Homo sapiens: one gene and its partners. The protein of the gene in region 1 purifies or fractionates together with the protein of each later gene. This does not show direct contact. Each region holds a gene or a part of one and is shown in the gene's direction. Other genes may lie near its edges.

Region 1 (4,091 bases):
TTGCTTCAGATTTGGTTAGAAATTATTGAATCTGGAGTGTAAAAATCTTGTCTGGGCCTTTTAGGCAGCTTGATTTTAAAACTAGCCCTTCTGCCCCAAGACTTATCAACCGCCCCCCCACCCTGTCCCAAAAGAAAAGCTGAAGTAAGTTCAGTGTTAAAATAATGGTGCTGTCAGGCAGGCAGTCTGCATGTGAGCAGCAGAAAATTAGAAGAATAGAACCATCCATTCTCGTTTCCCCCCGCGACATGCACGCACACATACGTGCACACACACACACACACCACACACACACACACAGACAACACCAGTCAGTGAAGGGGGAAAAGGGTGATACCTTTTTAAAAAATGAAAGGCAGTAAGCCATTATTAGCAAGAGCTATATTGAGCATGCTTGCCAGACAAGCAGCAAAGCTGAGCTCCAGTTCCGCCCAGACATGTGCCTTGCCATTTTCATTTTAATCAGCCTGCTCAGGATGGCTGCTGATTCATTTTGCAGGATGTCCCCCTGGGAGCCAAGGTGGAAGCCTGAGGCGAGCTGCTATTGCATCAATGCAGCACATCAGAGCGAGAGCGCGGAGGCAGAGGGAGGAGAGAAAGCCTTCAGCACCGCATCCCGATTTCAATATGGCTAGTTAGAAGGTCCTGCATGAAACCGAGTCTATTGCAGAAAACATAATGAAAGGAAAGGAAAAGAAAAAAGTCACATTGTCATTTCATTATCCAACTATTCTCTCCCCCAACCCCTTCTTGCCACCAACAGACACACACACGTACACATTTTACAGTGACCATGAAAGATTTCAAGCCACTCTGTGGAAGTGTGTGTGTGTGTGTGTGTGTGTGTGTGTGTGTGTACTATTTACCTGGTAACTAGCTGGGGTGGTATACCTGATTTAGCTGGAGACTTTGATTTGTAGGACTGACAACCTTATTATGCAGTGAGTTTATTATTGATATTATTCTGCTCTCGGTTGCCATGGCCACCTTGTGAGAGACATTCAATTTTCTCTCTTCCATCATCATTATCTATGAGGCCATCTGTTGTGGAAAATGAATTCAGCCTCATTTGCATGACTGATAAGCAATTTTTTTTTTTATCTATTTAACAGAAGGTCATATGCCGGGGATTTGGAGCTTGTGAAAAAAAAATGTGGAAAAAAAAAAAAGCCTAGGAGAGGATGAGTGGGAGCGTGTGCATGGGGGTGTGTGGAAGTCAAACAGATCCCTGAGGCCTGCGAGCCTATCGCGCTGCATTTGTCATTCCTGCCCGGGCGACATTTTTTTTTTCCCTAAGCTACTGCACACTAAACAGTGAGAGAGCTTTTCCCTGCAGTCTTGTTGAAGCACCCCGGGTTTTTTGCTCATTGTTGGTGGGTGCATTTTAATTTTTTCATTCCCTGGACTATGGGTTATGATATCCATACTCACTGAAGACAAAAAGCCACCTTTTCTGCGTCTTGGTGGCATGCATGTGTCTCATCATCCTTTCAAACTTGTGGTGGAACAGGGTTTTCTTCCCTGTCTGTGTATTTTGAGCCAGCACAGTTACCAAAATTGAACTTGTCTTTCGCTTGTGAGCGGTTGTGGTCATTGTGAGGTACGTGATGTTCGTTAGGTTAATTTTTCGGGGAACTTAGTGAGCAGGATGTGTTTTACCGTAGCTCAAGGGCTGAGGCTGCTATTCCATTGTCTGCTCCTTTTTAAAGTTATTTTTACAGCATGGCTGGTAGCTGAAATGTTCCTGGACTGGAGGCTTTGTAATCCACAAAAAAATCTGTCTTTAAACTAAAATGGGTATTAGGTTGCATGACTTAACTGTGATGTTGTTTATTAAGAAAAAAAGAAACAAAAACAAAACGGGGTGCATGTATGGTGTTTGGAGGATAAGAGGATACTGAAACAAAAACTTCCCAGAGACTTTACTGGATTACTTTACATTACAAATGAAGCACATCATTTTATGCAAAGGCAATTAAAATGTTAGCTATTTTGGATGAATTTACCTGATGGTAAGAAGAAAGTTGATTTATATTGTTTAAGTGGAGAAACTCAAATAAAGATTTTTAAATTTAACTTAAATGTTTGAAGTTCATAATAATGAAAGAAAATGTTATTTATAACAGAAATATGTCTTTTTGTAACACCTAAATTAATAAACTAAAAGATTAAACTCTACACTTTAGTTTTAAGATAGATCTGAATAAAGCAAAAATATATATGTAAATATTTATATGAAAGTTAGCTATATAAAATATAGAGAACAGATTTTGAATTTAGTATTAACCATGACAATTTCTTGTACCATCAAAGCTATATAAGCTAAATAATTTCTAAGTTACTTAGAGTAAAACTATTTTATATAAGAGCCTTTTTGTTCAAATGTTTATATTTTCTACTAAACAAAATTAACGTCATAGACCAAAGCATCCCAAAACCACCCTTACTGGCATATGAGGGTCTTTCTAATTGTTCATCTTCATTTAGTGTCATGTAGCTTTAAAAATAATAAAGTCATGTCTCCCATACAGATAAAAATGTAATTATTTTTAAAAGAAAAGAGTTTTATAAAATATTCCTTTTCAAAAAAAAAAACAGCATTGCATTCCTATAAGTTTTCACCTCTCAAGAACTTTGAATCCAAAGTGTTGATTGTAAGTTATAAATGCTACTAAGAGAAACATTCCAGAAAAAAAGGAAGTTTGTTTTTTCTGATTGACCTAAAAGAACATGTATGATTCTATCACCTCAAATGCAGTAAGTTAATTGCTTAAAAGTCTCCTTAAAGTTATACTTGAGTGATAAATTTTCTTTATTAACTAACATAGACCACTACTGATGTGTGTGTGTGATGGTACTTTACTTGATTGCACTTTGAAAACTCTTACCATACTATCATACACTTTTCATAAACAATAACAGTTGTTATATAATCCTTCTGCTTTTAATCAGCCATATTTCTTTATATTTTAGCTTGATTTTCAGAGAAATAAGTTTATTTTAAATATTAATTGTGCATTTAAAGAATTTAAAACAATAAAATTCTGATAGATTATGAAGATTATTTAAAGTGACATCAGCTTTCTCAGAGGACTATAAGAATCAGTAATATGAGATCTGGATCTATATTATAATATGAAGGATTATGTTGTTGTCTTTTGATCTGTACATATAGTCTTCAGATTCGTGAATCAAAATTATCAACATCTAAAAAAACCTATGAGATAGCACAGTTGATTTTTCTCTCCTCCCCACCCCCACCCACAAAAAGTTAATTACCAATCTTGGTTGGATTCTTCCTTGCCTCCCTGACATTTGACTGCTGCTAATTCACTGATTAATCTCATTAATGTGATTATAGTAGGATTTAGAGTTGGCTGCCATTGTTCTGTAGACAGTGCTATTCAGGCTGAGCACTTGCCACCTCATTCAGTTTTGCTGTGATTTTTCAAAGGCTGGTGGAGTGAGCTATTGTGAGCAGGCTTCTCTGCCTTCCCTTTCAGCACCAGGAGCTGTCCGCAGCTGATAGCGATTGCATTCAACAGTGACTGACTTCCTCCTAGTTTATTGGCAATGTGAAAATGGCTCACTTTCATCACCTTAATGATTGTGCTAGTTGAGGTAGAAGTAGGAGAAGCCTTCATGGTCACATTTGGATGTTTTGAAGATGGTGGCAGCAAAGATATCTATACTTGAACATTTTTATTTAGTAAAGACTTTCCATCTGCCATTATACACATATTTTACTCTATTTCCAAATATTCAAACATATCAATATGTTAAAAATTACTTGTATATATGTATAGTTGTGGGTTGGAAAATTGTAAACATTATTACTTTTCAACTGGAAAATTTTATCCAAATACATGTAATTATTAATAAAATTCATCTTTGAAAAGATGCACCAGGACTATCTGGTGTCACAGTAAGGTAGAAAGTATGCATGACACACAAATTTCAACTTCTCTTGAGTTAAACTTGCATCCAACAGCAGAACTTATGCCAATTTCACAAATTTGTGTTAGAAGCTGAGATCAAGGTAAAGGCCCAATGATTTGTGACCACATATGAGTGGTGTACAAAAATTATTA
Region 2 (3,500 bases), on another chromosome or scaffold:
GGCCGGTCAGCCAGGGAAGGGCCTCTCAGAAGATTCTAGAAACTCCCGAGTTGCACAGGCAGCCCTGAGCCCTTTCTTTAGTGACAGGCGGCTCAGATTTCATGTCACACAGCCCATATCGTCAACACCACCATTCCCCTGATTGTTTTGTTCTTACCACACTTGTTTTTCAACAGAGAATCCAGGCCAGAGCCTGAACAGACTATTTCAGGAAGTACCGAAACGAAGAAATGGGTCTGAAGGTATGTTGCAGGCAGGCGTTTTCTTTGCAGTCAGTCACCTAGGGAAGCAGCATGTCCTTAGCTGTGTATTTGGGTTAAAACTGTGCAGTGTGATTCTGGCCTGGAACCTGATGGAAAAACAGCTAGTAAGTATAAAACAAGGCACGGGTTCAAGCACACCCAGCCCCTTCCTCCCGAGCTGCCTGCCCTCTCCCAAGCACAGGCGGGGGTGAGAAGAGGCATTGCTAAGCTAAGCCCCCCGAGTCTGAATCCCAGCCCACTTCAGATCCTAATTACCCGGTCCCCCGTTTTTCTCAGACGCAGTTGAAAAAATAACAGCGGTTGCTCTGAGAAAAGTCAGGTGACCCGTCAAATTAAATACTGCTGCTTCCTCGTATTTTTAACTCGGAAACACACTCAAGGTCCTATGGAACGGACGCATCCCACATCGTCCCGGTGGCATACTTGTTTTTAAATGGTGGTATACTTGTTTTGAATGCAGTGGTTCCTATTTAGGAAGGTAGTAAGAAATTAAACTATCCGGGTGGCTTCCCGAAAGAGCTGGGGCCAGCCCCTGGGCCATAGTAGCCTCATTTCGTCGGCACGTGTGCCTGCACAAAACATCACCATGTGGCCGAAAGAATCCATCCTCCCCACTTAGGAATTTCTGCAGGCTCCTTTCCTCGTATGTAAATTTTAAAAAGATATTATGTGATAATAGGTGCAAACAATTTTTTAAGTTAAGCCTTTCTTCACCCTGTGCCTCTGAATGATTGATAGACAATCAGCCTCAAACCCTCTGCCCTCCTTTTCCGTTTATCCTGTGTGGGACCCCAGCATCCAATAAACATCTAACCCCGAGGAGAGTCAGTCCCAAGCCACAGCAGTTGCTTCTAAGTGACTCATGAGAAACATTGCCTTTTAATCACTCGCCTTTTATATATATGGATTAAATGATCGGTTCTCCCGGGTACTAACCCACGGGTGGTGTCCGGCTTTGGCAGAGTAACATTGACCGTAAGGTCAAATGAGCAGGAAATCCCTCCTGCCCGGTGTCGCTGTGAAGTTGCACTCACAGCAAACACAGGCCACTGGGAGGCCACATCTGCCTCCTTGTGTCACCAGCCCCCACCCGGGGCTATATATCAGAATGACGTCTTCGCGCAGCGCTGATTTTTGTCCGGGGTTTGGGTTTGATGTCATTGGCGCAACTTCTCCCCACAGGTAACATCACCACCCGGATCCGAGCCTCGGAGACTGGCTCTGATGAAGCCATCAAGTCCATCCTAGAGCAAGCCAAGAGGGAGCTCCAAGTGCAGAAAACTGGTACAGCTTCCATTTCTTCATCCACTGTCTTCAAACTTAATTAAGAGAATTGTCATGAGTGCTCTGGTCAGCAGTAATTAACTATTTTTTTTTTAAACAATAATGAATGCCTGTTCTCAAGCATTTAGGCACGTAGAGAGAAGCAGGTCTGTGTGATCTGTATTTGCCTAATAGTTACCTTTTTTTTTGAGATGCAGTCTCTCTCTGTTGCCTGTGCTGGAGTGCAGTGGCACGATCTCAGCTCACTGCAACCTCTGCCTCCCGGGTTTAAGCGATTCTCCTGCCTCAGTCTCCCGAGTAGCTGGGACTATAGACATGTGCCACCATGCCCATGATATTTGTGTTTTTAGTAGAGACGGGGTTTTACCATGTCGGCCAGGCTGGTCTCGAACTCCTGACCTCCAGTGATCCTCCCACCTCGGCCTCCCACGGTGCTGGGATTACAGGTGTGAGCCACCGCGCCTGGCCCCTAGTTGTAATTATTCACAGAAATTACGCTCCTTAACTTTGACAGAACCACTTGCATTTCAGAATATAGCACAGGAAAATGAATACCAAGTATAAAAATTATCAGAGGTCAGGCGCGGTGGCTCACACCTGCAATCCTGGCATTTTGGGAAGCTGATGGGGGAGGATGACTTGAGTTCAGGAGTTTAAGACCAGCCTATGCAACACAGTGAGAGACCTTGTCTCTTAAAACACTAGCCAGGCATGGTGGCATGCACCTGTGGTCCCAGCTACTTGGGAGGCTGAGCTGGGAGGATTGCTTGAGCCAGGGAGGTGGAGGGTGGGTACAGTGAGCCGTGATCGTGCCACTGCGCTCCAGCCTGGACAACAGCGAGATCCTGTCGCTAAAAAAAAAAAAAAAAAAAAAAAAAAAAATTCTCGGGGAAAGGAGCCCCAGGAGGGCAGGTCGGGGAGCACTTTCACTGACACCCCCTTTATTACCCTCTACATCTGTGTGTATACCAAAGGCCACCAGGTCATCAAGCTGTAGTGTCAGGCCCTGGTCCTTGGTTGAGACAAGATGCCTGAATGTTTCACTGACAGGGGCCATGCTGGGGAAATACACAGTGTGGTTCTCCCAAATAACCCACACTTTGCAGTAGGTCAAGTTAGGATGAGAAGCATGTCCCCAGCTGAAGGGGGCCGCCCTGCCACACTCTCACCCCTGTTTCTCCATGCAGCAGAGCCGGCCCAGCCTTCCTCCGCATCCGGCAGCGGGAACTCTGATGACGCCATCCGCTCCATCCTGCAGCAAGCCCGCCGGGAGATGGAGGCCCAGCAGGCTGCCCTCGACCCTGCCTTAAAGCAGGCACCACTGTCCCAGAGTGACATCACCATCCTCACCCCCAAGCTTCTGTCCACCTCGCCCATGCCCACCGTGTCCAGCTACCCACCTCTCGCCATCTCCCTGAAGAAGCCCTCCGCAGCTCCTGAGGCCGGTGCCTCTGCTCTGCCGAACCCCCCGGCCCTCAAAAAGGAGGCCCAGGACGCCCCCGGGCTGGACCCCCAGGGAGCAGCCGATTGTGCACAAGGGGTCCTGAGACAGGTGAAAAATGAGGTGGGCCGCAGCGGTGCCTGGAAGGACCACTGGTGGAGCGCGGTGCAGCCGGAGAGAAGAAATGCCGCCTCCTCCGAGGAGGCCAAGGCCGAAGAAACGGGCGGCGGGAAAGAGAAGGGCAGCGGTGGCAGCGGAGGTGGCAGCCAGCCTCGGGCCGAGCGCAGTCAGCTCCAGGGACCCTCGTCGTCAGAGTACTGGAAGGAGTGGCCCAGCGCTGAGTCCCCATACTCCCAGAGCTCAGAGCTGAGTCTGACCGGGGCCAGCCGCAGCGAGACACCACAGAACAGCCCCCTGCCATCCTCCCCGATCGTGCCCATGTCCAAGCCCACCAAGCCCTCGGTCCCCCCGCTGACCCCCGAGCAGTACGAGGTCTACATGTACCAGGAGGT
Region 3 (3,500 bases), on another chromosome or scaffold:
TGGTCAGAAGTCCACACATGTGGTGGAAGGTTCTTAGCCATCTTTTTTGAGGAAGTGTCAATGTCAGTTTCTATTGTCTTATCCCTGCATTTGATAGAGGATTAGAATGGAGGCAGATAAAGATTCAGTGAGCATCCTTACACCTCCAAACTTGCTTCATTTATCTTTTCCTCATACCTGCTTTAGTATGGATTTTAAGCTTCGTTGGGAAGCGTGTGGAGCTTGAGAAAGGGGAATTCTTCCTCCCCGGATTTTAAGTTTTGTTGGAAAATTCATGAACCTTGAGAAAGGAAAATTCTTCCTGTCTGCCTCAATACACTGTGCTGCATTGGGAGTGAATGGACGCCAAGTCCGGGATCTGGCCCTGACCTCTAGTGGGCTGCTCAGCCCTCCCACTTCGAATTGTCCCTCTCCTACCCCCTTGCTCCTGGCCTGGCCTTTTTCTCCACCCTCTGGCCTTTCCACCCCAACCCAGGCTGTTTTCAACTCAGTCTTTGATAACAAAACAGAAGCAGTGGGGGGTGGGAGCGGATTAGGAGCCAGGCCTCCCCCTGGTGGAGTGGAACTCAGGGAAAATGACAGGAAGTGTGCCCTCCTGCTGCTTCTGACACTCTGCACCCCCGTCTGGCATCAGGGTCCCAGGCTGCAGCGACCGAGAGCTAAGAGGCCTCAGATGCCCACTCCGTGACTCTCATGTCTTTCCTTTTTCCCCTCAATCTACCATCATTCTGACAACATCTACAGAGTTAAACTTGGGGCTGCGCCAGGGCGATGTTCCAGCTCTCATCTCTGACCTCTCCTCAAGAGTTTTTTCCTGGCATCCTTTCTCTGCCTGGACCTGTCCCCACTCTGCTCTCAGCTCCTCCCAGGCAATCTTTTCTAATTGATGCAGAATCCTGTAGACATTTATAAATAGCCTTCCTTCCTCCCCACCCTCCCCCCAACACCTTCAGCCACTTATTTAAGAGTGTTTTTCTTTTTTAGACATAAGCTGTTGAATTGGGCCCTTCTCTCAGACCCTCACCCCAGCTTGGGCCAGGTGGCAGGGTGGGAGCACTACTCCTGGGGCACCCGTTCCTCTGGGGCCAACTTGGATGTGAGCTTCCTGAGGGACATGTGCCTTTTTCCAGTCATGCCAACTTTCCTTTTTTTTTTTTTTTTTTTTTTAAGACAGGCTATCACTCTGTCACCCAGACTGGAGTGCTGGTTCACTTCAGCCTCCAACTCCCAGGCTCAAGGGATCCTCCCACCTTGGCCTCCCAAATTGCTGGGATTAGAGGCATGAGCCACTGCCCTGGGCCTCAACAGTTGTTAGATTTGAGTCTTTGGATATAGACAGACCTGGCTCTTTCTTGAGTGGAATTCTTCCCCTGCCTCCTGTGGCCTGTTTCCCCCTCCTAAAGAGTCTACCTCCTCAGAGCTCTGAGGGGTTGAGGAATTGCTGGGGCACTTGCCTCTCACCTCATCCCTGCCTCCAGGCCTCGCAAAGTGAGGTAATGTGGTGGAGGGGAGCTGGGGGCGGTAGGTAACAGCTGGGGGATTAGACTCATTCTGTGTTTGTGCCCTGTTCACAGCTCCTCTGACAACTCCTTAGTGACAGGGGCAACAGCTTTGGTACACACAGGGTGGTGAATGAGGCCCCGCCCTCCCAGGGGTCCTCCCCAGACCCAGCCCAGAGGGAGGCTGTGCTGGAGCCTGAGCTGGCCAGGAGAGTGTGTACTTGGTTCCTGTTTCAGTTGCTTCTGGGCCCTCAGGGCACTGAGCCCTTCCTTGCTCCTGTCAAGAGGGATTAGGGTCTCTGCTGGCAAGGGGAGGAGGGCGGATACCGGCAGGGGAGAAGAGGCTGGGAAGGTGCTACTGGTAGAGGGAGGGTGTGGAGTGCACGAGACTGTCCACACTCTGGTCTGCAGCCGCCACTCTGTGGCACTGAGTCATGTCTTTGGCTTCTTGGGGCTTTGGTGGTATGTGTGTATTAGGGGGAGACCCAAAGAAAGGGCTCCATCTTCCCCCACCAAAAATGCAGAGAAACATTTCTGTTGATTGGACATTGTTTGAGAGGAGACACATAGGGTAGAGTTGTCTGGGGAGTGGCCATCGTCCTGGTTGGCCTAAGGGACCATTGTAGTTGGAAGTAAGGGCTAAGATGAAAGATCATTTCCTTCTTTGTGATCGGCAATTCCAACGTAACCCCATTTACACTGATTTAGGGAGAGGCAGCAATGTGTATTGGTCACTTCATTAAGTCTTCCCACTTGTTTTTGGAAATTCAGGTAATCTTATCCCAGTTTACTGTTGAAGAAACCAAGGCTTAAGGAGGTGAATGTCATTTGCCTGAGGTTAGCGGCTGTTAAGTAATAGGAGTTAGGATTTGAACCCAGGTCTGTTGGATTCTGAGGTACAGGTTGAGGGACCAGCATCAAGATCCTAACAGTTCAGACTCTAAGGGTTAACCTTCACTCCTCCTCTAGGTTCCTAACAGCTATAGACCAAGGAGGCAGAGGAATGTACTCAAGAAAGAATCTGTCAGGGAGGCCAAATATTCCCCCCACTTCCACCCCTCTGAGTTCTCTGGGAAGGCTCAGGAGGGGTCGGGGGAGCTTTGTCCAGGAGCAGGAGAGTGGATCAGGAGGTTTATGATGGCTTTCACTGTGAGGGCTGGGCGGTCCCCTCTGAAGAGGGCACGCTGTACAAGCCTCACCTATACACTGTACAAGTACCTAGTCGTCCAGGACATCAGCATTCTGTCCGAAGTGCTCTGTGGTTGGCAGGTAGAGAGTGGGTTTTAAAGACCCATGTTGGGGTAGTCCGTCCTGGCTTTTAGCGTGAGAAAGCACCTCCACCCTATCCAGAGACAGAAATGCAGCAGCTACCCTCTTCTGAGCTGAGGCAAAGGGAGGGGCTGGCCGGGTATTTCCCAAGGATCAGGGTCTGGATCGGCTGTCTTTTGGCTCTGGAAATGGAGAACACTGTGTTTCCTACACCGAGGCCAGTTGGATAGAATGGGTCAAAGGCAGCTGTGGGGTCCCCCACCCAGTTCTGCAATGCTGGGTGGAGAGGGTGGGCTGGGGGCTGCTCTGCCTGGGTGGAGTCTAAACTAGTTAATGTGGATCAAGCCACACCCCTCCTGGCTTCCCGGGGAGAGAGGCAGAGGAGGAACCCAGGCTGAGCAGAGAATACACCATGAACAGAAGTCAAACAGTGTGGCCTTGGGGATGGGCTTAGGTGGTCTCCCGTGCATGCTGCTTTCCCCCTCATCCATCCCCAGTTATCTTTGGAGAGGAGGGAAGGATGGACTTGAGGTGGCGGGGCTGAGATCCAGGGCTGAGAAAGGCACCAAGCCCCTCTAGTCCTACTCTCAGAAGGGGTTAGTAGCACCCCGCTCTAAGCACCTGAGCTAAGCAGCGGCCGTCTGAGGCTGGGAGTGGGGATGCGGGAGCAGCCTCTGCTGGAGACACGCACAGGCTTCTGTGCTGGTGCAGGTGGGCATAATTCCTTTCCTG
Region 4 (3,500 bases), on another chromosome or scaffold:
CCCCACGGATACTGAGGGACAACCGTGTATCCTGATGTAAAATGTGCGAAGGGTTCCAACTGGGTATGTATCAGAAGAGAATGTACATACTAGTTTTTTTCTGGAGCAGCGAGTAAGGCTTGACTGCCTGCAGTGTCCAGTCTTACGCCTGCATCTCCTTTCTTGAGTTGCCAGCATTGTTGTTTCTGCAGAAGTAGCAGCCTTCACCATAACTGCCTGTGCCTGAGACACCCTATTCTGTGGCTGCATTTCAGGTAAAGGCAAGCTTTTTGCATAAATCTGACTGTAAGTTGGAAATGGCCTTTTCTTTTCTGAAGTACGGCTGTCCCTCGGTATCTATGGGGGACTGGTTCCAGGACTTCATGGATACTACAACCTGAGGATACTCAAATTCTTTGCATTGGCCTTTTGTGTCCACAGGTTTCGTGTTTGCAGATAGGGATGGCCTACTAACTGTATGTAATGTTTTTCATTGATGGCTTTGTGCAAGCCTGCCTTGAATAGAAATTGATTTTACGGGAGTTTATTGAGTGCATACTCTGTGTCAGGTGACGCCAACTCCGTGAATTATGATTTTAACTAGCCCCTATTTCCTAACTTTATTCAGACACTGAGGATGCTAGTGAAACTGACCTGGCAAAGCATGATGAAGAAGACTATGTAGAAATGAAGGAACAGTGAGTATGATATGCCTATGTCTTTTTGGAACATAGAATTGACAACATCTTTATATAGATTGAGCATCCCAAATCTGAAATCTCAGATGCTCCAAAATCTAAAACTTCCTGAGTGCCAGCATGATGCTCAAAGGAAATGCTCATTGCACTATTTCAGATTTCAGATTTTTGGATGTGGGATGCTCAGCTGGTAAGTATATTGCAAATAATCTAAAATTTGAAAAAATCCAAAACACTTCTGATCCCAAGCATTTCAGATAAGGGATACTTAATCTGTAGTAACCTTGTGTGTATGAGTTTGACCATAGCGCTTCCAAAGACCATGTATGTTTACAATTTCTCCACTTTAAATTAATTACATTTAATCAGTCTTCCCGTTATAAGACTTTGTTGAGTACTCTCTAGAAAGAATCTTGAGGGCAATGGACCCAGGGGAGGGAATGAGGCCGTACAACAGGAGAGGACCTTTTACTACTTACTCTTTTTTTTCCTTGAGACAGAGCCTTGCTCTTTCGTCCAGACTGGAGTGCAGTGGCAGGATCTCCTCACTGCAACCACCGCCTTCCGGATTCAAATGATTCTCCTGCCTCAGCCTCCTGAGTAGCTGGGATTACAGGTGCACGCCACCACGCTCAGCTAATTTTTGTATTTTTAGTAGAGACAGGGTTTCACCATGTTGGCCAGGCTGGTCTCGAACTCCTGAGCTCGTGATCCGCCCACCTTGGCCTTCCAAAGTGCTGGGATTACAGGCGCGAGCCACTGCGCCCGGACCTTTTTTTTTCTTTTCTTTTTTAATGGGCAAACCAATGCACAGAGAGGGTAATTGTTGTCTTGAAGCAATTGGGTTCTCAGGTGAGTGTAAACTCACTGCACTAATGTGCTAGACAAGGTGCCGGAGGCCTGGAGAGCTCAGAGAAGCCACGATTGAAAAGCAGGCTGCTGACTCTTATTTATTTATTTATTTATTTTTATTTGTTTAATTTTTTTTTTTGAGATGGAGTCTTGCTCGGTTGCCCAGGCTGGAGTGCAGTGGTGCAATCTTGGCTCACCACAACCTCCACCTCCCAGGTTCAAGTGATTCTCCTGCCTCAGCCTCCCAAGTAGCTGGGATTATAGACATGCACCACCATGCCCGGCTAATTTTTGTATTTATTTATTTTTTTTGTGTGGAGATGGAGTGTCGCTTTGTTGCCCAGGCTGGAGTGCAGTGGCCTGATCTCGGCTCACTGCAACCTCTGCCTCCTGGGCTCAAGCAATTCTCCTGCCTCAGCCTCCCGAGTAGCAAGGACTACAGGCACATGCCACCATGCCCGGCTAATAATTTTCGTATTTTTAATAGAGACGGGGTTTCTCCATGTTGGCCAGGCTGGTGTCAAAACTCTTGACCTCAGGTGATCCACCTGCTTTGGTCTCCCAAAGTGCTGGGATTACAGGCGTGAGCGACCCTGCCTGGCCACATGCTGACTCTCAGGCCAGTGCTCTGTCCACGTTTGCACCTGCTCTCACCCAAACCTTCTCATTGTCTTCAGACAGAGCCACAGCCGAACAGATTCAGAGAAACGAAAACCTCACTCACTTTTAGCGTACACCCAGATGGAAAACGGTATAAAGTATATTTAATGTATATTTGTTGAATGTGTTAGGTTTTTAAAGTTCTTTACCTTTTAACAGGATGATCCACATTCATTTCCCTTTAGGTCCTTTTTGCAAATGTTTTGTGGCCATCCTCTGGATTCTCACATTGTTTTTGTGCTTTGGAACTCAAAGGGGTAATTCAGCTAGGTCTAACCAGTGCTGAATAAAGATGGATTACTTTTTTTTTTTTTGAAACAGAGTCTCACTCTGTCACCCAGGCTGGAGTGCAATGGCATGATCTCGTCTCACTGCAACCTCCACCTCCTGAGTTCGAGTGATTGTCATGGCTAAGCCTCCTGAGTAGCTGGGACTACAGGCATGCGCCACTACGCCTGGCTGATTTTTTTGTTGTTGTATTTTTAGTAGAGACGGGGTTTCACCATGTTGGCCAGGCTGGTCTTGAACTCCTGACCTCAGATGATCTGCTTGCTTCAGCCTCCCATCGTGTTGAGATTACAGGCCTGAGCCATCGTGCCAGGCCACTTTTTTTTGAGACAGTAGCCACTTTTTTTTGAGACAGTATCTTGTTTTGTTGCCTGGGCTGGAGTGCAGTGGCATGATAGCAGCTCACTGCAGTCTCAACCTCTGGGGCTCAATCCATTGATCCTCCCACCTCAGCCTTCCAAGTAGCTGGGACAACAGGCACGTGCCACCACGCCCAGCTGATTTTTAAAATTTTTAGTAGAAACTAGGTCTCACTGTGTTGCCCAGGCTGGTCTTGAATGCCTGAGCTCAAGCATTCCTCCTGTTTCGGCCTCCTGGAGTGCTAGGATTACAAGAATAAGCCAATGTGCCCAGCCTTTTTTTTTTTTTTTTTAAGAGACAGGGTCTTGCTCTGTCGCCCAGGCTGGAGTGCAGTGGCATGATCTCGGCTCACTGCAACCTCCAGCCCCTGGGTTCAAGCTATTCTTCTGCCTCAGCCTCACGAGTAGCTGGGATTACAGGCGCCCACCACCACGTCTGGCTAATTTTTTTTTTTTAAGTAGAGACAGGGTTTCACCATGTTGGCCAGGTTGGTCTCGAACTCCTGACCTCAAGTGATCCACCCGCCTCGGCCTCCTAAAGTGCTGGGATTACAGGCGTGAGCCACCTTGCCTGGCCTCCCTTAGTATTTGATGATACAGAAAAAATTTCGGTTAAAATGGAATGCCTTGTGTAATTCAAGGGGAAATCTAAAGTGCATCAGAA
Region 5 (3,500 bases), on another chromosome or scaffold:
TTCATGCTGCTTTGACTTCTGGTTATTTTTGTGTAGCAGCTTTCATTGATGGGGTCCATTCTTGGCCTTGCCTAATCATTTTTCTTGGATGATATAGAGTGTTACAAAAGAATTATTATCTTAATGAATCAGGAATGTTCTCTCTATTTGTTTTCTGACATAGGTAAAGTGGGAAGGATTAGAACCTTCAAGGTGAAATGTCAAACTAGAAATTTCCTTTTATAATCTGCTTGTGTTCCCCTTGGTTTTAGGAGCTGGGAATCCCAAGTGCAAAATTGCAATTGTTTTGGGAAGAACTCAAAATACTTCTCTCTCCAGGTAATTAAACAATTCTGATTGAGAAACCTGTGTAGGAATGAGCCAGTCTTCCTCCTATCTAGGTAATTTACTTAAAATTCACTGTTTGGACTCACAAATCATAATGTAAGATATGAGAGTAAATGTCATATATTTGTATTTCACAAGTATTTTCTAACAGGTGTTTTTGGAAAACATTATAGGGAGTATTGCTGAACATTCTTCGCTGTGGAATTTTCAGTATTAGAAAGTGTTGCTAAATTATCAAAGCTGTTTGGATTAAATTATCAGACAAATTTTTTCAGACCTGTGTAATGAAGTGATTAGATGTTTAGATCAAAGGCAATAATCTTGAAATGTTTAATTATATATATAAGTTCCCAGTTACCATTGTTGAGCAGTGAGAAGCTTCAATCAAACAACTCATTTATTTTCAAATCATTGTTTCTGTTCCAGATCACAGCCTGCATCAGACTATGTTGGTGTACGTCTTTTACACAGTTCCCATTCCAGTCATCACTGCTTACATGACTACATGAAAACATCAAAAAGACAATTGTGATTCTGCTTATTATCTGTTTTATTTTTCTTCTTAGCAAACTTTTTCTAATACAATTTTTCTTTTGACTAGACACAAACAGCACAGCATGATTCTTGTTCCCATGAACACACCTGGAGTAAAAATAATAAGGCCTTTGTCAGTTTTTGGCTACACAGGTAGGTATCCAATAAATATGACCATGCATTAGCAAGCAGGAAGGCTAGAATATGCAGTAACATTGAAGGCAATAGCATTTTAATGCATAAGATAGATTCTTAGATATTCCTTTGTCTGTGACAACTGTCTTAATATAAATGCTGGTGGAGTTCAGAGTAGAGCCAATAAAAAGAAATAGTATAGCATTTATGTAATTTATAATTATATAAATTATAGAATTTATAGAATATAAATTCTGCCTTTTTGGGAAAGGGCAGATTGTATTTAAGGAAGAGCAACACTACCAGTCTTTTCTCTGTCATTCATAAAAATGGATTAATGCACAGATAATCCACAATAAAATTATTTTTATCTCCAATTTTAGCCCTCTTAATCAATCAACTTACAAGAACTGTTAAAAAGCAATGAGTTTTTGACTTATTTGAGTGCAAAATTTTCCTTCCTCTGCCCTTGGGTGGGACTTCTAAGAAGCAAAGATCCATTTGTTTCCTGCCACCTACTGTGGCACGTGTTCATTGTGTACAATAAATATTTGCTAAGATCACCCTCTCAGCAAGTATTTGCTTAGCCACCATGCCCAGCTAATTTTTGTATTTTTAGTAGAGACGGGCTTTCACCATGTTGGCCAGGCTGGTCTCGAACTCCTGACCTCAGGTAATCCACCCTCCTCGGCCTCCCAAAGTGCTGGGATTATAGGTATGAGCCACCGGGCCCAGCCCCTGGCTTTCTTTTTATCATTGAATATGACTAATGAATATGTTCAAGTGGCAGATATAAGACTTGCAGTTTTATAGAATCACTTATCAGTTAAGATGCAGCTGTAGAGTATACCCACAGGGTAAGCATAGGTGGCAAGATGGGATGAGCAAGCTTGCTGGAGAAAATTGCATGTAGGAAATTGTTGGGTTGCAGCGAAACGGCCGCAAAGATACCAAAAATGCGTTTATAATATAGTTGAGCTGCAAATAATTTCCATTGCAGAGGCTACATTTGATTATTCAGTATGAAAACTTTACTAGCACCTCTCCAACTCCCTGTGTCCAGGGCCAAAAGAAACAGTGTGGAGAAGGCTGATTATTGTCTCCTCTGACAGGAAAAGGGTGTAGAGTTAGCATGAGATTATCTCTAAAACTTGGCAGGGAGAAGGGGTGATGCAAAGATAAAATGTGAACGTGTTCCTGGCCTCAGTGTTTCAAATGCCAGTATTTTCAAGAGACGAACACACAGTGGAACAAGTCTAGACTGGGAGTAAACCTACCTGAAGGTCTAGTTTCTGTATCATCACTAATGCCAAGCCTGCTCTTTCCCCTCAAGCAGGCCCCTGTCATCTTTAGGCGTTGGTTTCCACAATGATAAAATAAGAAACATGGATTACATTACTCATTTTTAATTTTTGAAACATTGAAACTTTTTTCCATGCAAATTGTTTGGAACCCCATATGTAAAATATTTCAAAGAAGCAGCAATAATAAAACAAATAAAATACTCTGGCTGGATCTATGGAGCCTGGTCTTCCTTTTTCCTAGCTCTCTGAAATTGTACTTCAGAGAATGAATTAGAAAACATCTGGATCAAAGGGTTTCTCTTCTTGAACAGTTGATGAGTTTTCTGGGCTGCTGGGTCCTGGGGTTCAGGGCTGAGGCTTACCTCAGAATGTTCATGCCATATGGATCTTTGAAATCCTATTTTCTTCAAGTAATTATATTTCAGCAGATTAAGAATATGTGACTCTTTTTTAGTCAACTCCTTTTGCTCTAAATTTTATTTTCTATTTTATAGATAATTTTCATGGAGGACATTTTGAGATCCATTTTAATCAAGTGCGAGTTCCTGCCACAAATCTAATACTAGGTGAGTTGAATTTGGAAATGATTCTTCAGTATTGTACATTAATATTTCAGCTCTAAATCTGGAAAAGATAAGTCTTTCCAGATTTAGACCTGAAGTCTACCTTGATTTAGATATTAGGTTCGTGCAAAAGTTATTGCGGTTTTTGAACTGCAATTACTTTTGCACCAAGGTAATTGCAGTTTTTGGCAAAAGCCGCAATTACTTTTGCACCAACCTAATACTTTCCCTTCTTGTTTACTCCATTTGTCAAGGGAAAGTTTTCTGTTTGGCGGATTTTCTTACATGGAATGGTGAGGTTTTATTTAAGTGTTGGATGTGGTTTTCTATATCACATCAATTGAAAAGATAATATGAAAATTATATAATTCAGAGCAATACACTTTCTCCTAGAACATGATCTGTAGGCCTCTATTTGTTTTAAGAAAACCTCAGTACTTTATGAATTCAAGTATTAGATATAAGTTAGAAGCATAAATAACTTTGAACACTGTATGCCATCCTCTTGCTTATTAGAATACTATATCCCTTTCAAAGAACATCTAGAATACCACCTCTTCCAGGAATGTTTTTGTGTTCATCCCATCCATTCACCAGGCCCCTGATACCTGCCAGGCCCTGAGGTTATAATGATGAA
Region 6 (3,500 bases), about 130 Mb from region 1:
CCAGCACTTTGGGAGGCCAAGATGGCTGGATCACCTGAGGTCAGGAGTTCAAGACCAGCTTGGCCAACATGGTGAAACCTCGTCCCTACTGAAAATATAAAAATTAGCCAGGCATGGTGGTACACACCTGTAATTTCAACTATTCAGGAGGCTGAGGCAGGAGAATTGCATGAATCCCCGGGAAGTGGAGGTTTGCAGTAAGCCGAGATCATGCTACTGCTCTTCAGCCTAGGTGACAGAGTGAGACTCCGTCTCAAAACACACACACACACACACACACACACACACACACACAGACACACACAATACAAAATTAATTCACACAATATGAAATTAATTTACAGAAAAGCAGGAGTGGCTATATTAATGTCACATAGAGTAAAATTCTGAGGAAAGAAAATTGCTAGAGACACAGAGGGATATTACATACTGATAAGATAATCGGCTGACCAGGTAATGATCCATTTCTCTGCAGTGTCTTTTAAAATATAGGCAAGGACATTCCAAATTTATTTTATGAAGCCAATATTTTCATGCTATCAACACCAGACAGAGTGTACAAATATAGAAAATGACAGATCAATATTCCTCATGAATATAGATGTAAAAATGCATTAATAAAATATTAGCAAATCAGATCCAGCAGTATATACCTTGACCAAGTAGAATTTTTTCTTGCTGTGCAAAGCTGGTTCAACATTTGAAAACCAAAGTAATCCACCATATTAACTGGCCTTATTAATTTCCTAGGGTTGCCATAACAAAGTACTGTGAACTGGGTGGCATAAAACAGTACAAATTATTCTCATGGTTCTGGGGGCTAGAAGTCCAGAATAAAGGTCTGATAGGATCATGTTCTCTGTGAAAGCAGTAGAGGAGAATCCTTCCTTGTCTCTTTGGTTTCTTGTGATTGCCAGCGATCTTTGGTGTTCCTGGCTTGCACCTGCACCACTCCAGTCCCTGCCTCCATCTTCAAATGGCATTCTTCTCTGTGTCTCTCTGCCTCTCCCATCCTCCTTTCTCTCTCTCTCTCCTTCTCTCCCCTTCCTTTTCTCTCTCTCTCTCTACTTCTCTGTCTCCCTCCCTCCTTGTATGGACACCAGTCATTGGATTTACAGCTCACCTTAATCTAGTATGACTTCTTAACCAAATTACCTTTTTTGTTTGTTTTTTCTTGTGACGGAGTCTCGCTCTGTCCCCCAGGCTGCAGTACAATGGTGCGATCTTAGCTCACTGCAACCTCCGCCTCCTGGGTTCAAGCAATTCTCCTGCCTCAGCCTCCTGAGTAGCTGGGATTATAGGCGCCCACCACCACACCCCGCTAATTTTTTGTATTTTTAGTAGAGACAGGGTTTCACCATGTTGGCCAGGCTGGTCTCGAACTCCTGACCTCAAGTGATCCACCTGCCTCGGCCTCCCAAAGTGCTGGGATTACAGGTGTGAGCCACTGCGGTCAGACTACATTACATTCTAATATAGTTATAGTCACAGGTACCAAGGATCTTCAACATGTCTTTGGGGGGAAAACCATTCAACCCACAACAAAAGCTAAAGAAGAAAAATCACATGATTGTATCAATCAATATAGAAAATTTGACAAAATTAAACACCTTTTCATGATAAACAGTGTTCAAAAACAGAAAAAGAAGGGTTCTTCCTTGATTTGATAAAGTTGTTCTGCCCTTGGAAAGGCTCCCCCAGCTGTCTTATGCTTTGTTCTTTCCTTCAAACCAGCCTGCACATAGTCTAGGCTATATCTTCATTAGTTCACAAATCTCCCCCAATTCCCTTTGCCACAGCCTCCACTGTTATGGGGAGCACCTTTAGGTTTGAACTTCTTCACACTCTTGCAAATGGACTCACTTCCTTCAGGAAGAAATTAGAAGGTATCTGTTTTACAGCCCACTTCTTCCGGCAAAATGTTTGAACCAGGGCCTTAGAGATGGGGGAGGCCCTGGCTTGACACGTGGCAAGCTTCTCTCTGAGTGACAGCCCTGCTTTAGGAGGTAGCACTTAGTGGAGGTAAAGGAGGGGAGTAAGCAGCCTGGTGTCCTCTTGGCTTGCCTCTCCTAGATGAAACCATTACCTCAAATAAAAAAGTTCTTATGGCCAGGTACGGCAGCTCATGCCTATAATCCCAACACTTTGGGAGGCCATGGCAGGCAAATTGCTTGAGCCCAGGAGTTCAAGACCAACCTGGGCAACATAGCAAGACCTCATCTCTACAAAAAATACAAAAGTGAGCCCAGCATGATGGCGCACACCTGTAGTCCCAGCTACTTGGGAGGCCGAAGTGGGAGAATCATTTGAGCCTAGGAGGCAGGGGTTGCAGTGACCTGAGATTGTACCACTGCACTTCAGCCTGGGTGACAGAGCCAGACACTGTCTCAAAAAAAAAATAAAATTCTTGTTAAAATAATGGCATTTACACTGCTCGAACACAAATCATTTACCTTTTTAAACACTGAAATACATGTATTTTTATTTTTTATGGTTCCAGAGGAGAAGAAAGCTATGCTGCAGGAAATAGCTAATCAGAAAGGAGTATCCTGTCGTGCTCAAGGCTGGAAAGTCCACCTCTGTGCTGCCCAGTTACTACAGCTGGTAGGTGGAGTTCTAGCAGTTGTTCATCATGCTGAAGAGAGGAGAAGACACTGCAGATAGCTGAGTTCATAGAACTTTTTAAAAGTAACTCTGAAGCATTCCCAGCTAACATGGGTTATGATAGAATTTTTATGTGTGCTATGTAATATCACACTGTGTCAGTTACATGTGATTAAAATTGAAATATATCTAAGTTCTGGTATCCAGATCCAAAATATATGGAACAACTGTGGTGTAAGACCTAAATTTAAGATTCAGTGTTATGTGATATTGTGACATCTGAAATAGGGGGAGCCTCAAACGGCCTAACCGAGAGTCCCTCCTCCCAACTCTGCTCCCTCAGATGAAGTCTCCTAGGCAAACAACCCTTCATACCACAGGGACCAGGCACACAATTCCTGCTCCTTGCTGAGTAGTAGGCTCCAGTTCCCTGCCAGCTTCCAGTATTCCAATTTCCAATGTTACTCAGATAAGCCAGTCACACACATCATCATTCAGAGACCGGGGCATACCTCTCCCTCTCTCCTGTTCTTTTTTTTTTTTTTTTTTTTTTTGAGACAAGGTCTTGCTCTGTTACCCAGGTTGGAGTGCAGTGGCACGACCATGGCTTACTACAGCCATGATCAACCTGCTGGGCTTAAGTTAATCCTCTCACCTCAGCACCCCCAAACAGCTGGGACTGCAGGTGTGAGCCACTGCACACAGCTGATTTTTTAAAATTTTTTGTAGAGGCCAGGCACGGTGGCTCACATCTGTAATCCCAGCACTTTGGGAGGCCGAGGTGGACAGATCACGAGGTCAGGAGTTCGAGACCATGGCCAACATGGTGAAACCCCTGTCTCTACTAAAAATACAAAAATAAGCTGGGCGTGGTGGCAGGCGCCTGTAATGCCAGC
Region 7 (3,500 bases), on another chromosome or scaffold:
TGGATTTTCAGTTTTTTATACCACTTGAAACCCTTCAGTCAGATTGCTTTTCTCCTAACAACTAACTGGTATCACTTGCACTAAGAGTAGAAGTTTTTATTTTAAGGAGGAAAGGTGATGTTGAAGTTTGTACCATTTACTTGGGTCACAGACAGCCTGGCTCTAATGCCTCAAAGAAAAGCATAAAATAGAATGAAGGAGAGACACTGAATGAAGGCAGGGTGCTAAAAACAATTAATGTCCATGCAGAAACATCTAATGCTTTGCCTTAGAAAAGGGAGGTGATTCTTCTTTTCATCCTGTTTTTCTGTCATTCTCCTGACTCCTTGTTTTGAGGGTCCACAGTTCAGACTTTTACCACTCATTCTGAGGATCCACCGTTTCTGTGGTTTCCAAGGGAACACAGGCTCTGAGTTCTAAGCAGCTAAGCTTCCTGAACTTTTGGAGTGTAACCTGTTTATAAATAATTAAATAACAGCTTCAGGGCATTCATGTGCTCATTGTAAACTAGTCTAATCTGATCATAAAACAGAGTGCCTCTTAAGCAACTCTTTGTTAGCCTAATTGTATGCATACACTTAAAAATTATAATTGTGTCTATGCATAAATTCAGTTCTCTAATTCAACAAAACCCATACCGTTGCCCTAAGGATGCGAGGTATCACTCTGCTGGAAATTTAGCTCTACTCTACATTTAAAATACAAGTTTTCACATTAAATAATTTCTTATTCCCCAAAAGATTAATTTCTGTCTCTTTCTAGTCCCTCACTGAATTTAAATTCTAACTAGTTATTGCACTAGGGCAGAGGTTGAGATATCACTGATAGTTCACACTGGATTTGTTCAACCTGTTGTTTTGCGTCCATGAAAATAGTTTTTGGTGGTAATGTTGTGTAATGATGTGTAGAAATTTTATTAGAAATATTTCCCCCTTCTTTCCTTTATTCTTCAAGTATTTTAGTATGTATGACAAACAATATAAATTTTGTAGCTATGTTTTTTTATTTCAGTGTTTAGTGGCTAAATTATCAGTAAGTTATAATTTTATTAATAAGTTTCACTGTAAAATGGACCATACAGGTGATCGAGGAAACATCTCAACATCTTCTAAACCAGCCTCTACATCAGGAAAATCAGAGCTGTCCTCTAAACACAGCAGATCGCTTAAACCTGATGGACGTATGAGCCGGACTACTGCTGATCAGAAGAAGCCAAGGGGCACAGAAAGTTTATCTGCTAGTGAATCCCTCATCTTAAAATCTGATGCTGCAAAGTTGAGGTCAGATTCCCACAGTAGGTCATTATCCCCCAACCATAACACCTTGCAGACATTGAAATCTGATGGGAGGATGCCTTCTAGCTCCAGAGCTGAATCCCCAGGACCAGGTTCTCGGTTGTCATCTCCTAAGCCAAAGACTCTCCCAGCCAATAGGTCTAGCCCATCGGGTGCTAGTTCTCCACGCTCCTCCTCACCACATGATAAAAATCTACCTCAAAAAAGTACTGCTCCTGTTAAGACAAAGCTTGATCCTCCTCGGGAACGTTCTAAATCAGACTCTTACACACTTGATCCAGATACCCTCCGCAAGAAGAAAATGCCCCTCACAGAACCTTTGAGAGGACGGTCAACGTCACCAAAACCAAAATCAGTACCAAAGGATTCTACAGATTCCCCTGGATCTGAAAATAGAGCTCCCTCTCCCCATGTGGTACAGGAAAACCTCCACAGTGAGGTGGTCGAAGTCTGCACCTCAAGTACTTTAAAAACAAATAGTCTAACAGACAGCACCTGCGATGACAGCAGTGAATTTAAGAGTGTGGATGAAGGTTCAAATAAAGTTCATTTTAGCATTGGAAAAGCACCACTGAAAGATGAACAGGAAATGAGAGCATCTCCCAAAATAAGTCGAAAATGTGCTAATAGACACACCAGGCCCAAAAAAGAAAAATCGAGTTTTCTTTTCAAAGGAGATGGATCCAAGCCTTTAGAGCCAGCCAAGCAAGCCATGTCTCCTTCTGTGGCCGAATGTGCCAGAGCTGTGTTTGCTTCCTTCCTCTGGCATGAAGGCATAGTACATGATGCAATGGCTTGTTCTTCTTTCCTAAAGTTTCATCCTGAACTTTCCAAAGAACATGCTCCTATAAGGAGTAGTTTAAATAGCCAACAACCTACAGAGGAAAAAGAAACCAAGTTAAAAAATAGACATTCATTAGAAATATCATCTGCACTGAATATGTTTAATATTGCACCCCATGGACCAGATATATCTAAGATGGGTAGCATCAACAAAAACAAGGTATTGTCTATGCTTAAGGAACCACCTCTGCATGAAAAATGTGAGGATGGGAAAACCGAGACCACTTTTGAAATGTCCATGCATAACACAATGAAGTCTAAGTCTCCTCTTCCCTTAACTTTACAACATTTAGTGGCTTTTTGGGAAGACATCTCTTTGGCTACTATCAAAGCTGCTTCCCAGAATATGATTTTTCCAAGTCCTGGTTCCTGTGCAGTTCTTAAAAAGAAAGAGTGTGAGAAAGAGAATAAGAAGTCCAAAAAGGAAAAAAAGAAAAAAGAAAAGGCAGAAGTTAGGCCCAGGGGTAATTTGTTTGGAGAGATGGCCCAGCTGGCAGTAGGAGGACCAGAGAAAGATACCATCTGTGAACTGTGTGGGGAGTCACATCCATACCCGGTGACCTATCACATGAGACAAGCTCACCCAGGTAAATGATACTGTTGAATGTACGTATAAGTGCTTTTTTCTTTAATGAACCAGATCACTTTATTTGAGCTGTTCTATGAATTTTGTCAAAGGATAGGGAATTTATAGTATCTTAGAATGTCATTTTTAAAGTACATTATCAGTACAGGGTTTTGTGAAAAACAGATAAATTCTAATATTATGATGGCCAGGTCATTTAGTGCTATTTCACTTTCATGTAGCATGTTTTAAAAAATATTATGTGTTACCCAAAGGGTGTGCCATTAATGTGTCTGTCTCACACAGCAGAAACAGTGGCATGCCCATACACACAGGGCATCTCCTTTGATTTTACTATTTTCCTGTTCAGAATTGCAAATTAAATTAGATTAGATTGATTTCTATAGGCTTTTTCCTACGGAAGTGATATTGTTTTATCAGAAGACTGCATTTTCAGTAAATGTAATGATTTCTGTAACATTGACTAATATTCCAAATTCACCTAATACAAATTTGGTTAATTTTTTTCTTTGTCTACATATTATACCTCAAATGTCTTATGAATATGTGATTTCTGAAAATATATCATTGTTATAGAACTTTTATACTTGTATTGTCTAATTTTATTGACATAATTAAGTATATCTAAATATACCTATATTCTATCTCTCTTTTAATATGCCTGATTAGAAACTAAGTATCTCTCATATTTGGGGCATCATTTAATTGATTGCTTTTTGATCAAGTAAGCTATTTTTCTGATATAGTTAATAGCCTGAAAAATAAGATATCTACTT

The links.
Region 2: the proteins of MYT1L (region 1) and CUX1 purify together in Homo sapiens (affinity purification with mass spectrometry, with the first as the bait; one large-scale study listed by BioGRID). This does not show direct contact.
Region 3: the proteins of MYT1L (region 1) and SPRYD3 purify together in Homo sapiens (affinity purification with mass spectrometry, with the first as the bait; one large-scale study listed by BioGRID). This does not show direct contact.
Region 4: the proteins of MYT1L (region 1) and SUDS3 purify together in Homo sapiens (affinity purification with mass spectrometry, with the first as the bait; one large-scale study listed by BioGRID). This does not show direct contact.
Region 5: the proteins of MYT1L (region 1) and ACAD11 purify together in Homo sapiens (affinity purification with mass spectrometry, with the first as the bait; one large-scale study listed by BioGRID). This does not show direct contact.
Region 6: the proteins of MYT1L (region 1) and SAP130 purify together in Homo sapiens (affinity purification with mass spectrometry, with the first as the bait; one large-scale study listed by BioGRID). This does not show direct contact.
Region 7: the proteins of MYT1L (region 1) and MYCBP2 purify together in Homo sapiens (affinity purification with mass spectrometry, with the first as the bait; one large-scale study listed by BioGRID). This does not show direct contact.

The regions. Positions count from the first base shown.
Region 1 is NC_000002.12:2,328,476-2,332,566, reverse strand, and holds the start of MYT1L (myelin transcription factor 1-like protein), read left to right. Parts: upstream 1-1,291; 5' UTR 1,292-1,600; intron 1,601-4,091. UniProt on the Homo sapiens protein: Transcription factor that plays a key role in neuronal differentiation by specifically repressing expression of non-neuronal genes during neuron differentiation.
Region 2 is NC_000007.14:102,198,626-102,202,125, forward strand, and holds part of CUX1 (Homeobox protein cut-like 1), read left to right. Parts: intron 1-176; coding exon 177-242; intron 243-1,445; coding exon 1,446-1,547; intron 1,548-2,734; coding exon 2,735-3,500. UniProt on the Homo sapiens protein: May be involved in intra-Golgi retrograde transport.
Region 3 is NC_000012.12:53,069,391-53,072,890, reverse strand, and holds part of SPRYD3 (SPRY domain-containing protein 3), read left to right. Parts: intron 1-3,500.
Region 4 is NC_000012.12:118,379,555-118,383,054, forward strand, and holds part of SUDS3 (sin3 histone deacetylase corepressor complex component SDS3), read left to right. Parts: intron 1-607; coding exon 608-677; intron 678-1,415; exon of another isoform or gene 1,416-2,134; coding exon of another isoform or gene 2,135-2,280; intron 2,281-2,305; exon of another isoform or gene 2,306-3,500.
Region 5 is NC_000003.12:132,576,310-132,579,809, reverse strand, and holds part of ACAD11 (acyl-CoA dehydrogenase family member 11), read left to right. Parts: intron 1-251; coding exon 252-318; exon of another isoform or gene 319-928; coding exon 929-1,014; intron 1,015-2,794; coding exon 2,795-2,866; intron 2,867-3,500. UniProt on the Homo sapiens protein: Acyl-CoA dehydrogenase, that exhibits maximal activity towards saturated C22-CoA.
Region 6 is NC_000002.12:127,944,560-127,948,059, reverse strand, and holds part of SAP130 (histone deacetylase complex subunit SAP130), read left to right. Parts: intron 1-2,500; coding exon 2,501-2,604; intron 2,605-3,500. UniProt on the Homo sapiens protein: Acts as a transcriptional repressor. May function in the assembly and/or enzymatic activity of the mSin3A corepressor complex or in mediating interactions between the complex and other regulatory complexes.
Region 7 is NC_000013.11:77,096,595-77,100,094, reverse strand, and holds part of MYCBP2 (E3 ubiquitin-protein ligase MYCBP2), read left to right. Parts: intron 1-1,081; coding exon 1,082-2,725; intron 2,726-3,500. UniProt on the Homo sapiens protein: Atypical E3 ubiquitin-protein ligase which specifically mediates ubiquitination of threonine and serine residues on target proteins, instead of ubiquitinating lysine residues.